Regions from separate parts of the Homo sapiens genome. Here region 2 is linked to region 1. Evidence: fine-mapped expression QTL. Tissue or cell type: whole blood. Region 1 holds a variant in brackets; the other region holds the start of a gene. All regions are shown on one strand. Distances are between the middles of the regions.

Region 1 (8,156 bases):
TTAAGTTATGGTTAAAATTACCATACTCCATGTAATCTATAATAATAATATCAAATTTTTCCTGTAATAAAAGTAGTTTAAACCCAATTTTAATAATTATAAAATCTTCAGCAGATTTCTCAGTAAGTTTTAGCAAACTATTTCTAATTATGAACTACTATGGAATATTGAGTTGGATTTTTTAATAGATCCCAAATGAAAATCAAACTCATATTGAGAGCTGAATCCAGTTGGGCTTCTGTGTCGGGTGGGGACTTGGAGAACTTTTCTGGCTAGCTAGAGGATTGTAAATGCACCAATCAGCATTCTGTAAAAAATAGACCAATCAGCACTCTGTAAAATGGACCAATCAGGAGGACATGAGTGGGGCCAAATAAGGGAATAAAAGCTGGCCACCTGGGCAAGTGGTGGCAACCCGCTGGGGTCCCTTTCCATGCTGTGGAGCCTGTGTTGTTTTGCTTTTCACAATAAATCTTGCTGCTGCTCACTCTTTGGGTCCGCACCAACTTTAAGAGCTGTAACACTCACTGCGAGGTCGTGGCTTCATTCTTGAAGTCAGTGAGACCACGAACCCACTGGAGGAACAACCAACTCTGGACGCGCCACCTTTAAGAGCTATAACACTCACAGTGAGAGCCGTCGCTTCATTCTTGAAGTCAGCAAGACCAAGAACCCACCAGAAGAAATAAATTCTGGACACAATATGTTTAATATTAGAAGAATGATTACACATAGCTTGTTACAGATTTCCAAAAAACAGTAGGTACAGTTTTTAAAATTTACATTCACAGAGAATTTTAATGACATTGGAAAATGTAAGAAACTTTGAAAAAAGATGGAGTAAAATATGTATAAAATTGATAATAGTTGATTTAGGGTGGTAGAAGTAAACATAATTTTTTCTGTTTATATTTTTCTCTATCTTTTAAATTTTGCTAATGTGCATAGATTCTTTTAAAATAATAAGAAAATAATAAGGTTAATACGTTATAAAAAATAGGGACCTGGCTGTTGAAGTGCGATGGAGACAATTTGTTAGAACATGTGGCTTGTTACACAGACGCTTGAGAAGTTTGTTGAGAGAGAACGATTACCTAGAAACAAGAGTTACAGTAAATGGGGTAAAAAGGGCAAAAGTTCTTCAGATTACTATCCTATTTACCAAAGTTTGTGATATGTATTTTGAATATATGTGAAGAGCTTCACTTCTATCAAGCCATAGCACTTATTTGTCACTCTGATATAACAATTTAACATAAAATTGAGTTCATTCAAATGAGCAGAAAAGGAAAAAAATGTAAGTATGTCTACTTTCCCGGGAATGGTCTTGCACCAGTATCTTTCTATTCATGTTAGCATTTTCTATGTAAGAAACAAATACCCAAAGACTTTTGTAGTAGAGACTCCATCTGTTCCAATATAGTCAATATCCTTCTATTTGAGCATCAATTAGTGGCCTTCAATTAACCACCTTGCATTCGGTAATAGTCTGAAGGGGAGAGTTCTTGATTCTGGGAATCAAAGAGCTTTACTGCTGTGCCTCATGCAGAGAGCAGACCAGATGTCTTCTAAAAGCGAGGCAGTCTCCTTTAAATATGCATTAGAGCTAGCATTACTATCACACTTAGCCTTCCAAGGCTCTAAAAGCAGTGGCAAAGGAGGGCTAAACATACAAAATGCAAGCAACTTGGTCTGTAAGCAGTCAGTATGTCATTATCCTTCAACAGAACTCTTTCAATTGAATGTTTGTGGTTTAGAGGTTTTAGGATATAATATTTCTCACTTCAAAGAGTTTTTTTATATTACTATATGAAGCCATGGTGCATTTAACTGACTTAATAAAATGTAATTCTTACTTTAAGTCTTGAGAGGAGAAAAGCCTCTGTGAAAGAAATCTTTGTTAGCAAGGCATATAAGCAGAGTCCTGGTCTGCAATAATATTGATGATCACGACTTGTGTGTTACTATATAAAATTCAACCAGTCAAAATTCAACATCTTTAAGAATATTGCTACTTTGGGCAAAATTTGAGTTTCATTAGAGTAAAATCATTTCTGACATTTCATAAAGTTTAATGCAAACAAAAATGATTAATCATTCATAAATATGTAAACATATGATATTAAAAGGGTATATTACATTTGAGACAAAATGGCAGAATCAGAATTTTTTTAATTGCTAAGAATTTTATGTAGCAAGTTTGTTTATTCAGTAACATAATCACAAAATAGAAATATCACATTCACAGAAGTGGAAATAAAGAGCATAAAATATTTTTAAAACAGGAAAGCAATGGGATCACTTTCAAGAGCCTCAAAGAAAACCTTTAATTTACAATGCTACGCTTTCATGATTAATAGGATTAATGTGTGGTTTTTCTTTGATAAAAGTAGTCATGATTTTTTAGTATTACATACATTCATTGCATATGACAGACACTCTGATAAAAATGTACTGTTCTAATTACTTAATTGTTTTGGCTCATTTAACACCTTGTTTAAATAGCTTTAAGACATATAAGAGGCAAATAATTATATATACTTAAGGATAAAATTTTCAGATATTTATCCAAACACACATTTACCCATTAAATTAGAACACTAACTGCTTAATATGTAAAACTAGTTTGAAATCATGACTCTTGATTAAATACATACTTCAACATCTCTCATGAGACTTCCCAACTTCAAAAATGACTTTAAAAAATTAGCTTGGGGGTGAATCACCAATACATTCAGAAACACGGCCAAAACAAGGAGTTTTATTTCAAAGACTGAATTCAGAAAATGAACCAACTATTTTTGTACATTATATTAATAAATTGGTTCTTTGTTGAAAACCTCAAACATGAATGATATTAGCAATATGCATGTGTGAGACCCATTAAAAATGACAATTCAAAAAAATTACTGCTTAACCTAAAGGAAAAATGTTACTGTTGGATTCCTGCCTGGGGCTTAAATTGTGGTCTTGCATTAATAAAGTACGTTTGTTGATTCCCTAGCTTTGGGTGATACCTTGAAACCTTTTGTGTTTTCTGGGAGATATTTCACACAAGTTCTAAAATTTGAGAGTCCACTTAACAAAATAAAATTCCCACTTACATGATAATATATTAATTCTAATATTATATAAATAGAACAAATCTGATTCATTTATAGGGCAAGTGCTACATTCTGAACTATCTAACTCAAATTAAATTCAACTCTGTGGCAAACAATTCATTTTCTTATTAGGCAATCAATGTTACCTTCAATAAGGCAATTCCCATTTACCTTCTGGCCATAGCAGTTGTCTTAAAACCAAGTTCTAAACCTGTAGTTCATGTAAAAGGATATGATTTCCTTAGCAAGTAGTTAAGAAAATCTACAATAGGCCGGGAACGGTGGCTCACACCTGTAATCCCAGCACTTTGGGAGGCTGAGGTGGGTGGATCACCTGAGGTCAGGAGTTCGAAACCAGCCTGGCCAACATGGCAAAACCACATGGCTACTAAAAATACAAAAATTAGTCGGGTGTGGTGGTGGGCACCTGTAATCCCAACTACTCGGGAGTCTGAGGTACGAGAATCACTTGAACCCAGGAGGCAGAGGTTGCAGTGAGCTGAGATTGCACCACTGCACTCCAGCCTGGGTGACAGAGCAAGACTCCATCTCAAAAAACAAAACAAAACAAAAAACTACAATAGAGATGTATGTCAAAGAGAATATAAGTTCTTAAGAAGCTGCGTCTAATTAGTGAAGCTCTCCCTTCCCATATTCAGTGATCCAAGAAACTGAAATTTAAATGGAAAAATGAATCTGTAAAGTTATAGATGTCAAATTCTCAGATTCTTCATTGTTATTTCCCAAGTGGAAAAGGATTAGAAATAATAGAATATTATTGATTTTTAGAGGAAAGTAGATTAAAAAGTGTTTACATTTTTAAAACTTTATACAGTGTTGCTCAATGCTCACCAATAGACCATTGCATTCATTTGTATATGCAAATTAAACTGGAAAATCCATAAAAACATATGTATCACCAGTAAATGAATCAGTAAAGTACAATATAACACAAAAGAAAA[C/A]GAAATATTGCTTGATTTTTTCCAATAAAAGCAAGGTTAATAAAAACATTTTTAGTAAGAAAATCTATCATTTTTGTTTTAAAAATCTTTCAATTTTAAACATCATTACCAACACATTAAAAGTATTATCAATAAGTGCCTTTACAATTTCAAGCAAAAGCTACTGTGTTTTCCTTATTGGAAATACTGCTTTCAGTCATCTTTTTTGTCTGAGGTACTCTCTTCATGCTTTTCAGGGCTGACTTTATTACTGGCGGTGGAGGGGGTTGTCTGGACTTCTTTTGGTAATGAAAACACATGGCACGTCTGGAGGTCTAGGTATGTTGTAAATATCTTAGCATATTCTGGATGCTTTAAGGCAAAACTTTTAAATTCCTCTAGAAGAGAAAGAAAAAAAATCCAATAAGTTGGGGTGAATCTTCTTTTGGCATGATGCAGATTAATAAATGACTCTAATAATGCAATTATTACAAAATTCTACTACCCAACACACAAACATTGCTGATGAAAATATAAGTTGTACAACCACTTTGGGAGATAGTTTTTCCATTATCTAGTCAAGTTGAAGATATACATACTCTTTGACCCATTAATTCTACTCTGAGGTATATATCCTAGAGAAATTTGTGCATATTGTGCTCTGAGAGACATGTATGAGAATGTTCACAGCAACATTATTTATAATAGATAAAAAATAAAAACAACTTGGATGTCCATCAACAGTAGAAATGCATAAATAAATTGTGTCATACTCATGGAACATAAGGCCATATGGCAATGAAAATGAATAAACAGCTATGTAGAAACAATGTGGATTAATCTTAAAGCCATAATGTTTAATGAAAAAAGCAAGATATAAAGTAACACATAATTGTATGAGTCTATTTATATAAAGCCCAAAAACTTAGACAAAACTAAAATTTAATATTTAAAGGTACATACTTTAGGGGTGAACTGTTAAAGTAAAATAAAGCAAGGCAGAGATTCCTTTTTAAGTCAGGATAACAACCCCCTTCTTTAAGAGAGAGGTAGGGGTGTGGTTGGGAAAGGGCACACAGGGGTTTCTGGAGTTGTGGAAAAGCTCTATTTCTTGACTTGAATGGTAGTTACATGGGTGTTCACTTTATAAAACTTCGTTGTGCTTTATATGTTTTATTTAGTTTTCTGTATTTTTGTTCTTTCTAGCAATTTAAAAAATGTTTAAAAAATTATATTACCCACCACTTTCTATAATTGGTTTTTAAAACCATTTGAGCCCTTAACTCTGGTACAGAAAAATACAGTCTTAAAAAGCTGAGCCTTGATTTGTAATCAATAATGGATAGGAAAGTGTACAATATATAATAATCATACCACAAGACCTCCAAGTAGAGGAGTTCTTTTTATCTCAAGTGTTTTAGAAGCTGAGATAGGGCTACAGAAGGCTTACTTAGTTAACTATCAGGACTTGAACCTCAATCCTCCAGTAACCTGGAGTTTCTGAAATATTATTCTGTCTTCTATTTTGAAATCCTTCTATTCTCTTCTTTTGGGTGGATAAAACTTTATTGAGCTTATTAGAGCAAAGATAGCATGGTCTTTGGATTAGCTGCCATTTGGCTCTATAATAAAATAATGTTAACTAAATGTCCTATTTCTATACATTTACTTTTAAAAAATCCTCTGATAAGCAAGGGTCTGCTTCATGACACATTAGGCTACCTAACTCTTGAATATAAAAATAGGTCTTAGTCTGCAGTGACCTCTGATCATGCCACTGCACTCCAGCCTGGGCAACAGAGTGAGACCGTATCTCAAAAAAACAAATAAACAAACAGGTCTTAGTGATGAGGAAGTCACCAGATTGAACTCAAATCATTATTTGCAATTGCAATGTTGTTTTGCATTAATAAACCACTTTTTATTTCTAAATCAGGCAAACTACTAACTGTTCTTTTTTAACTTCCAAAATAAAGGTTCTTGTTTCTAGGGATACATTATAGAAAAAAATAAAAATAGATGAAGTTTAATCTACATGAGTCTGTTTCAATGACGGAGACACATAGAAGACTTAAGTGACTTTGAAGATAAGTGAGCATGACAGTTGATCTACTGAAACCAAGAACTTTAATTTCAAGACTTGTGCTATGGCCAAAAGATCAAGATCCTCTGTTGGGATGTCAGTGGCATTAAAGAGTAACTCATTGCTGGAAGTCCTGTGATTGACTCTATGTGGAATTTGAGCATTAATTTAGATAATGGAAAACTGAAAATAAAGTAATTTAAGGCAGCAGTCCCCAACCATTTTGGCACCAGGGACTGGTTTCATGGAAGACAATTTTTCCATGGATGGTAAAGGGGATTGGGGAGATGGTTTCAGGATGAAACTGTTCAACCTCAGATCATCAAGCATTGGATTCTCATAAGGAACGTGCAACCTAGATCCCTCACATGTGCAGTTCACAATAGGGTTCATGCGCTCCTATGAGAATCTAATGCCTCCACTGATCAGATAGGAGGCGGAGTTCAGGCTCTAATGCTCACTCGCCTGCCACTCACCTCCTGCTGTGTAACTCCGTTCCTAATGGCCACAGATCGGCACCGGTCCATGGCCTAAGGGTTGGGAACCCCTGATTTAAAGGATCACATTTAAACAATCTAAATGGTCACATTCATGACATTTATCAATATCTACTTTTTAAACAAAATTATACTTAAATACTTCAAACATTCTTGAAAAAAATAGCAGATTTGCCTAATATTGGGAAAGGGGAGATATTCTGTATTCTGCAAAGAAAAAGGTTGAACTCCAAAAAACAAAGCAGATTTCCCTGAAAAATTACTTAAATCAACAGGTTATTATGGCTATCTACAAATCATTTTTAGTATTAGCTTCCATTGAAGTAGTTATTCCAACTAGTTTTTCAAAATTTAGTAGTTTGGAGTAATAGTCTTCCTTATGAAAATAGCCAGAGAAGAATTAGTACACTTGAATTTATGACTCATAAGTTTCATCTCAGTATTTACACTTCCCATTTTATCCTGTTTTTTCAAATGAACTCAATAGATTAAGTGCCCTAGGCATTTAATTACCTAAATGACAGTAATTAAAAACAGAGAGTAAGAGAAGTATGTGATCTACTTTTCCCATCCCATGAAAGTTAACAAGCTGAAACTCTTGAACACCATAAGGAAAGAGTAATTAAAGAGGAGTCTCCATCCAGCCTCAGGGGAAAGACTGGGGAAGATAAGCCAGCTTGACATCCATGACCACATCAAACCCAAGACAGGGAAACAATTATCTTGGTCTCTCCATTGAGGTGTGTTTCTCAACAACTGCACTGTGAATATAGAGAAGCTTCAGTCCAGTGCAACTTGTTTTGATGGGTGGACTTGAGCCATCAAGAGAAAAGACAGTTACTGATGGATAGACCTGCCACTTTGCCACAAGGTCTTTCTCCATGATAGACCCTAACTCACAGGAGTTGCTAACAAGATGGCATGAGACAAGGAATGTGAAAAGTTACATAGGTCACTAATAGTAAACATCAATAAATCGTTTAGCTACTATTATTGTTGGTGCCTCAGTCCATGTTCCTTTACTATAGTTGCAACCTACTTGGTTTACTTGTTCAGTTTTGCCTGGCCACACTGAAAGCAGAGATCACTAAAGTGTAGAGTCAATAGTGCAGGCTCCAAAGTCAAACTGTTTTGGTTTTTGAATTGTGGCTCTGATGTTCTTTAGCTAAATTGTCTTAGATAAGTTACTTAAAGTCTTTGTATCTTAGTAAAACAAGAATAATTAAGAATACCGATTAGATAGGCTTGCTATAAAGATTAAATGGGTTAATATATATAAAATGTTTAGAAGAGTGCCTAGCATATAAGTCCTCAATAATTAGCTATGACTATTATGCCATTACTACTATTATTACTGTGGTCATCAATATTACTATTATGTCTATTATTAATGTAATTAGTTAAGAGAAACAGTACTCTTGAGCATCAGTCCATAGTCTGGATGTCCTCCTTGTAAACTAAGTCAGGAGGCCAGATTGCCTACTCACCATAGGAAATTGAGTCCCCTTGGGCTATTTCCTTGAAGAGACCA
Region 2 (8,170 bases), 74 kb after region 1:
TATGACTGTAGGCCGTTGGTTTTTAAGGCTACTACAGAGCTGAGGATGAGGAATTAGAATAAAATTAAACTGTAACGAAGCCTACTATTCTAACTAAGAGTCAGCACTCTTAAATAAATGCTCCTTGGATTGTTGAAAGCCTTTGGTTAATTTTCAGAGCTAAGACAAAGTTGATTCTGATTTTTTTTTTTTGTTTTCATTGCTTTTATAGAGAAGATAATTTTCAGAGGCCTTTACTTCATCAGTTTTGCTGATGTCTCATCTCAGTTTTTTTCATTCTGCTTTTTAGACTGAATAATTTCTAGTGACCTATCTTCAAGTTCACTAACACCTTCTTCTACCATCTTCAATGTGTTGTTGAGCCCATCCAGTGAATTTTTCATTTCAGATATAACAGTTTTCAGTTTTGAATGCCCATTTGGTTCTCTTTTACATTTTCTATTTCTCTGCTAAGCTCCTTCCAACTATTCATTCATTATGCCATTCTTTACTTTTAAGTCCTTGAGCATTTTTATAATAGCTCCTTTCAAGTATTTTTCTGCGAAGTCCTACATTTGATCATCTTAGGGTCTGTTTTTATTGCCTGATTTTTCTTTTGATCACAGGTCACATTTTCCTATTTCTTTGAATGTCTAGTACAGTTTTTATAGTATTTTGGCCATTTTGGGTGATATATTACAGATATTCTGGATTCTGTTATCCTTTTCTAAAGAATGTTGATTTCTGTCCTGGCAGGTAGGTAAAATTCTGGCTGATTGCATTCACTTTGTGAAGGCTTAGTTTTATACTTTTTTAGGGAAAATTTGTTTGAAGCTAGCCCTTAGTCTTAGACTGAAGCCTTAGTCCTAGGGTATAGGACTAGCTTTTCTCCTATGGTATCACCTTTGTGAGGTTTCAGTGTAAAGCCTGAGATGTTTGCCAAGGCCCCCTTAATTGGTGGGATTCTAACTGTGCCTTCCCTGTGGTGTCTATCAGTTGAAATGTCTGCTCAGTTTCTTCTTCCTTCCAGCTGTTACTTTCCTCCAGAGTCCTTGAAGGCTCCTTTGTAAATACACAGCTCAGGAATCGGCCAAGGTTTTGAGATCATTTATATGCCAATTTAGGGGCTCCCTCATTTCTAGTTTCCTCCTTTCTGGGACTTCCACCTTCGATTTTTAGTCACTTTGATAGTCTTGAACTTTGTGCTCTGATATATCATGTCAATCAATAAGGCTGAGGCTTTCTAGCAATCCCTTCATGTGGTGTCAAGTGATAACCTTCAGGGAAAAAAAGGGGCTGGGGTAATGTTACACAGTATAGAAGTATTATTTCAAGAAACAAATCCCTCCAGTTTCTGTCTGATTTGTGTTGCTCTATAGTGCCTTCGTGTAGTTTTTCATATTTTGACTAGGGTTTATAATTGTTTGTCTACATTGTCTACATTGAGCTACTCCACCATTCCTGAGACTAAAACTAGTCCTGTTAAATTATTATTATTCACTTGAAAACTGACTTACAAATATAATGAAACTTATGCTATCAGTCTTATTTCCTATAAAACAGAATACGTATTAGGTAAGATGAGTAGGAGTTTCAGAACTATAATATAGAAGGGATCTTGGATCCAGGAGATTTTTCTTGAAGCTCTGTGTACATGGTAAGCACACTATTTTTAGCTAATGTTATATTTATTTGAATGGTGGTGCAATGAAGTATGGTGGTATACTGGGGAAGAGTACTGTGGAGAAGATGAGACGACTCAAATTCCCAAGTCACTCTGGTAGGTCACTGGCTGAGATTCTCTTCAAAGAGGTATCATTATTAAAAAACAAGCAATAATCTTGACTGAAAGAAAGGACCATATAGCATAGACCCTGAAGAAAGAGTTGGAATGAGTTTAAAGTATATTAGCATAAGAGTCACTCATGTCTACACTGAGCAACCCATATGGATTTTAATTGAACAAGTTGCAAAATATTAGGCAACTTTTTTTTCTGTGCCATCTTCAAGGTTTGCAACAAATAATAGTGTCTAACAGTAAATCAATTTTGAGTTAACTCATTGACAAATTAAGAGAATTCATCATATTTCCATTTGGTAATATGTCATCTCCATTGGGTGGCCTTCTCTCAGTGTTATTCTCTGGTTTTCCTTCATTACACTTACTAAAACATGAGATTATATATTTTTGTACTTGTTTGTTTAACTATCTTAGTGAAATGTGAGGACAACAGTCCTTAAGCAAGACATTGATCATCATTTAAGATTAAACTTAGTCTAAATTAATCATACTAAGTCATACTTAAATGAAAGTGTGTCCACCTTTTAAACTGGATAATATGGACATTGTTTTTCTACCATGCCTATTCAAATCTTCCCTTTACCCAGATGATTCAAGCCACTGAAACCTCTTGTATCTCTGATCTATATAAATTTAAAAAGTATTTTTAATATCCAGACTTTGTTAAATCCCATTTAATCCAAGTAGTAAATTTTAAGTACAGTATATACTTTGTAGAAAATATATAGGATAACTATCAATATTATCAATATTAAGATCAACAAACAATAACAGATTATTTCACTTAATTGTAGCCCTCCTTTGAGTTATTAATATTCCAATGTAATAGACGAGAAAAGTATAGTTCAGAGAGGTTAAGTGACTTGGCCAAAGTCATACAACTAATAAATGACCAGTTCCTATAACTGACTAGCTATCATTCCATTATACTATAACTCTCAGAGAGTTATTTGGAAGAGATCTTTAAACAGTAACAAACCAGGTGATGGAAAAACTTAATAATTTATTATAGGTGCAATATAAATATTTGTCAACATTCCATGCTGTTTCTTTCCAAAATATGAAGTCAAATAGATGGGCATATTTTCATTTAAGTATGATTTAATTAAATCAGACTAAATTTAATCTTGAACAATGGTCTATGTATTTACAAATGTTTCAGAATGTGAAGACACAAAAAGAATATCTATTAATTTAAAGACATGAGGATCACATTTTTAAACGTTTAATTTCCTCACAAAGCAGTATTACTACATTCTTTATCTTCTTCCTCTCTCACACCCCTCTTCAACCAGACACCCATCTACCATTACTCAAGCCACCACCTGTGTTGTTTAGCTCTGCACTTAACCTTCCCCCACTGTAGAGGACAATGGTCTTAGTGCATACAAGCTGATTGCAAATATTATACTGCTTCAAATCCAAAGTAATGTGTGAGATGGACATGAAAACTTCAAAATTGTTCCCCCACCCCCCCAACCCCCGCAGAACACACGGACAAATGTGGTTAGCAGGGTCTATCTTGTTCTCTGATCACTAACTTCAACAAAGAGGAAGTCCAAAGAGTGCAACTGCCAATGGTAAAAGGAACCCTTTACAAGAAAAAGGAAAGGAAAGGAAACTTCCTTTGTGCATAACAGTATAGCCATTTTTAACAATGGAAAACAGCCTGGGCTACTACTTCTCATGCTTCAACTTAGGAAACGTTTTTAGGTGAAGACTGATTCTGGACCAAAACTTCTTGAACATCCTAAGCTGACTCAGTTGTCCCTTTTCTTTGATTCTGACTTCCCACCCTCCATCATGCTCCTGCTCAGCTAAATCTTTCCAGCCTTACCTGTTGTTCTAACCACAGACCTAGGCTCTCTGCCTTCTGCCTCACTCTTATCCATCCCATACTGACTCCTCTCCTTCCTAAGGCAAAAAAAAAAAAAAAAAGACTTCTTCAAATCTACTCTCCCGTAGTAGATCTGCCTCCCACTACACTCTCATAAACTCAAGTTGAAGCTTCTGTCACAGATTCACAGATTCCTTCAACCTTCTGGGGCATGGAATGTAGCCTGCGCCACCAGCCAGCTCAGTCTCTTCCTGTTTTGGATTCTCCTCTCAGGCCCGCATCTTCCCAGCATCTTCTCTCCTCCCGTGCCCGCTCAGACCATCCTCTAAATGTCCTCAATTCTCAGACACACATCTCCGCCCCTTTCAGGCTCACGGCCCCTCAGAAGTCCTCTCCTCTCAGATCCACTGCTCTTTCTTCCTCTGATGCCTTTGCTTCCCAGACCCACAACGCCCCTCAGACCCACGCGCCCCTCGACCGCCCTCCCCCGTCAGACCTACACCAGTCACCTGGACCCGCCCCAGACCCTGGCTCCCCTCGGGCCACCTCCCTCCTCAGACCCATGCCCCCTTCAGGCCACCTCCCTCCTCAGACTCTCGCCCGCCTCGGACCACCTCACTCCCTCAGACCCACGCCCCCCTCGGCCGCCCTCCTCTCTCAGACCCACACCCCTTACCTGGACCCCCCTCTGACCTAGGCCCCCCTCAGACCACCTCTCCCCTCAGACCCACGCCCCTCACCTGGACCCGCCTCGCGGAGCCGATCTGCGTCTGCTGCACGAAGGGGTTCGGCACCGGCGGCGGGAAGAAGGACGCCTGACGGGGCACCATGGGCGGCCGCAGCCCCACGTTCCCGACGCCGGCACCTGGCACTGTGGCCGCCACTTCCGCCGCCTGGGCGCACCGGCTCATAGTTGAGCCGGGCGTAGAACCCGGCCGAAGCGATCTACGCGGGCGCTGCAGCCAAAACTGAGCCGAAGACCTACTAGAGTCCCAGCCTAGGGCGACGCTGGGGAGCCTCTGCGCAGGCGCTGAAGTTACTTAGACGCCTGCTGCTGCCGCCCTGCCCCTTCGGCTGTGACACGCCCCAGGCTCTGGCCACACCCCCTCAGGCATCTGGCTCCACCCCCTTGGTAATATAGTCCATCCCCTCGGAGGGGAATGTTTTCCTTCCGAGCCAAGACCCTGAAGGGTACCCCAGGATCCCTAACATTCCACAGCGAGACACTAGGCAGAGTTCCCTGCTTTAGGGTCGGACGGACCTGGATTTTCAATCCCTTTTACTGGGCCTGTGACGCTGGCCAAATCACTATCTCTATGAACCTCGGTTGCCTTCCGTAAAATGCAGATAAATGTATTCTCAGATAATCCTAACCTGGATCCAGTAATGCCATTGAGCAACCACTTCCCCTGGGCTGTTCCATTAAGTGAGCTAATATTAATACACCCATGATGGCACTAGGAGTGGAATTTGTTTCACTCAAAACATAATGGACTGACAGGGGAGAGATGGTTCTCCAGAGGAAAACTGAGCTACTATTACCAGAAAAGGCAAAAATTACAGTTGCCCTCCACGCTAGATGAGGAACCTGACCCAGAAAAGGGAAATGTATTGGGCTGTGGCTCCCTTTCACACTGAGGAAGTTCAAGCCTGTTTGGACCTATGTGGGTGCTCGTGGGGGTGGGAGGGCAGGGGTTTGTCCCATTATCTGAGGACAGTTGATCAACCCTGAGTGGCTGAGAGTTAAAGGAAGGAGATGATAATCAACTCATCCCAACTGATCAACTCTTCTCACAGCAGGTAGGAAGGCCAGGATGAAAATCTGAGTCTGAGCCCTGGGGTTCTCCAAAGTTACCCTCTGAATGTCAGAATCTTCCAGCCCTACCACATAGATGTGTGGCCTTGAGTCAGTCACTTAACCTGAGTTTGCTTCCTTGTCTAGGAATGGGAGATTCATTCTAACTCCATAGAATTGTAGCAAGGATTAAATAAAATAATGCATGTGTAGTGTTCATAGAGAAACACTGAAGAAATGGCATGTTTTAAGCATTATTATGTTGTGGAGCCACTGACTTTTCTCTCAGTGTAACAGGGAACATTAATAACAGTGCATTACAGCCATGATAGAAGATTCCCCAGTCTAGGGGGTCTTCAAGTTGGGACTGGCAGACCCTTGAGACTCTTTAGCCAGATACCTGCACAGAAAGATGTCTTTCCAACTGTCAACAACCTAAGCCAGGCCAGGTGCAGTGGCTCACGCCTGTAATCCTAGCACTTTGGGGGCTGAGGAGGGTGGATCCCTTGAGCCCAGGAGTTCGAGACCAGCCTGGGCAACAAAGAGAGACTCCACCATCTCTAAAAAAAATTAAAAATTAGCTGGCTGTGCTGTTGCATGCCTGCAGTCCCAGCTACTCAGGAGGCTGAAGTGGGAGGATTGCTTGAGCCCAGAAGATCAAGTCTGCAGTGAGCTATGATCATGCCATTGCACTCCAGCCTGGGTGACAGAGAAAGACACTGTCTCAAAAAAGAAAAAAAAAGAAGAAGAAGAAACAAAAAGAATCTGAGTCAAGGGGACAGGCCATGGGAGGATAAAAGATAGAAAAGATGGGGCCGAGAGTGGTGGCTCACACCAATAATCCTAGCACTTTGGGAGGCCGAGATGGGTGGATTGCCTGATCTCAGGAGTTCGAGACCAGCCTGGGCAACACGGTGATACCTGTCTCTACCAAAATACAAAACAAATTAGCTGGGTATGGTGGCGTGCACCTGTAATCCCAGCTACTTGGGAGGCTGAGGCAGGAGAATCACTTAAACCTGGGAGGCAGAGGTTACAGTGAGCCGAGATTGCGCCATTGCACTCCAGCCTGGGTGACAGAGTGAGACTCCATCTCAAAAACAGAAAAAAGAGATAGAAACAATGACATCAGGCTCACTGAGGAGGTCACCTGTAGAGTTCACTCCTTACGCACCTTCCTCACCAGCCCCATCATAAGAGGCCAGAAGCAATATATATACTATCAATCAGACTATCGGAGCCAGAAAGGGCCTCAGAAAAACCCCAGGCCTTCAATTTCTGTTCAGCAGTAGCTCCAGAATTTCTATGTAGGAGATTAGGAGTGGGTAGACTGGTAGGAAGGAGTAAGGAGCTTATCCATTAATACCAGCTGTGTTTAGAAGCAAGCACAGTATTTCTCCCTTAGCTGTGTTTACCCAGCGTGGTTTTGGGGGTGGTGGAGGGTAGCAGGAGCGGTTTTGAAGGTGGTGGGGGTGTTTTTGAGGGTGGCGGAGGGTGGTGAGATTCTGGTTTGAGAGCTAAAGCTCCTCTGCTAGGCTATCCTTTGGCCTTGTAGGTCCCTAATAGCTATGGGACCCTGGAAAAATCACTTCTCTTGAGCCATCAGTCTCTTCATCAATAAGATTCAACTAATAATGGCCTTTTTTATTTATGTGGTTGGAAAGGTTAAAATAGGTGACACGTGAAAAGTGCCTTGCACATAGAAAGCACTCTATTAATTGAGGGGGATATTATTGTTACTGTTCATTGTTAGTAGTAGCATTAAAACTGATATGATTGCTAATGAAGAAACAGACTTAAAGAGGAAGCAAACCTCGAACAGATGCCACAATAAAGCAACAAAATTGCTGATTCTTCAGGGCTCTTTCTACAGGACAGAGGGACTAGAGCTTACTCTCCCTGAGGTTCTCTTGCTGTTTACTTTGGAAGCTCTGACCTTTCCAGCAGACACCATCACCTGTGCCCTGCAGGGAGCAGAGATTCGGACTTTTTAAGTTTCCGCTTCTGGCTGGGTCTGTGGCCCTTGTCTAGGCTCTGCTAAAACAGATGGCAAACACGGCCACTCAGTAGGTGTCTTTATTCATACTTGTTGACATTTCCCATGGGGAATGGTTGAAGGGAGGGGCAGGGAGGGCTGAGCGGGAAGCCACGGCTTGGTTTTCCTCCATCCAGTGGAGAAGAGACTCGGTAGGGACATGCTAAGTAGAGTGAACAGGGGAACCATCACTATGTGGGCTGAGATGCACTGTGCAGTGACTTCAGACAACCTGAGTCCTTCTGTCAGGAAATGCAATTTCTAAGTGGAAAAAAAAAACAAGACCCAAAGAAAAAAACAAAGTGCATACAAAGCAAACTGCTAATGTAAGAAAGGTTCTAAGGCAGCCAGCAGTGAAAAGCCAGGGGTCTGGAGTGGCCACCTGGCCATGCCCTGTCCCACTGCCCTGTGCCAGGCTGTCGGGCCACCAGTGCCCTCTTGAGACAGTCTCCATTGGCTCCAAGGGTTCTGTGAGCCACAGAAGGTTGTGAAAGGAGAAGAGCCTGAAGTGTGGCAGCACCAGGGCAGCCCAAAGCAGGGCTGCGTTGAAAATATCAAAGTATCTCTTTAGGGGTGGCTCTGAGGGTTGGTGGGATTGGAGGGGGAAGGGGCGCCTGGGAGGAGTACAGTCAGCATCTATTCTTGGGCACCGGGAGGAGCCACTCTCTGGAATCTTAAATTACCAGGTAGGAGTGAGAATGCTGATTAGCTGTAGAGCTGAAG

Evidence for each region. PIP is the estimated chance that this variant, and not a neighbour inherited with it, causes the effect.
Region 2: it holds the start of LPCAT2, and the variant in region 1 is fine-mapped to the expression of LPCAT2 in whole blood (TOPMed, PIP 0.95).

The regions. Positions count from the first base shown.
Region 1 is chr16:55,579,201-55,587,356 of GRCh38, reverse strand. LPCAT2 (lysophosphatidylcholine acyltransferase 2) reads right to left here. Exons shown (of 14, transcript NM_017839.5): 13 at 8,113-8,156; 14 at 691-4,443. The coding sequence ends at 4,259. Among named protein-coding and RNA genes, the nearest start is that of CAPNS2, 17 kb to the right of the region's middle. The variant C/A (reference allele first, on the strand shown) is at 4,067.
Region 2 is chr16:55,505,540-55,513,709 of GRCh38, reverse strand. LPCAT2 (lysophosphatidylcholine acyltransferase 2) reads right to left here and starts at 4,638. Exons shown (of 14, transcript NM_017839.5): 1 at 4,358-4,638. The coding sequence starts at 4,528. MMP2 (matrix metallopeptidase 2) reads right to left here. Exons shown (of 13, transcript NM_004530.6): 13 at 7,019-8,170.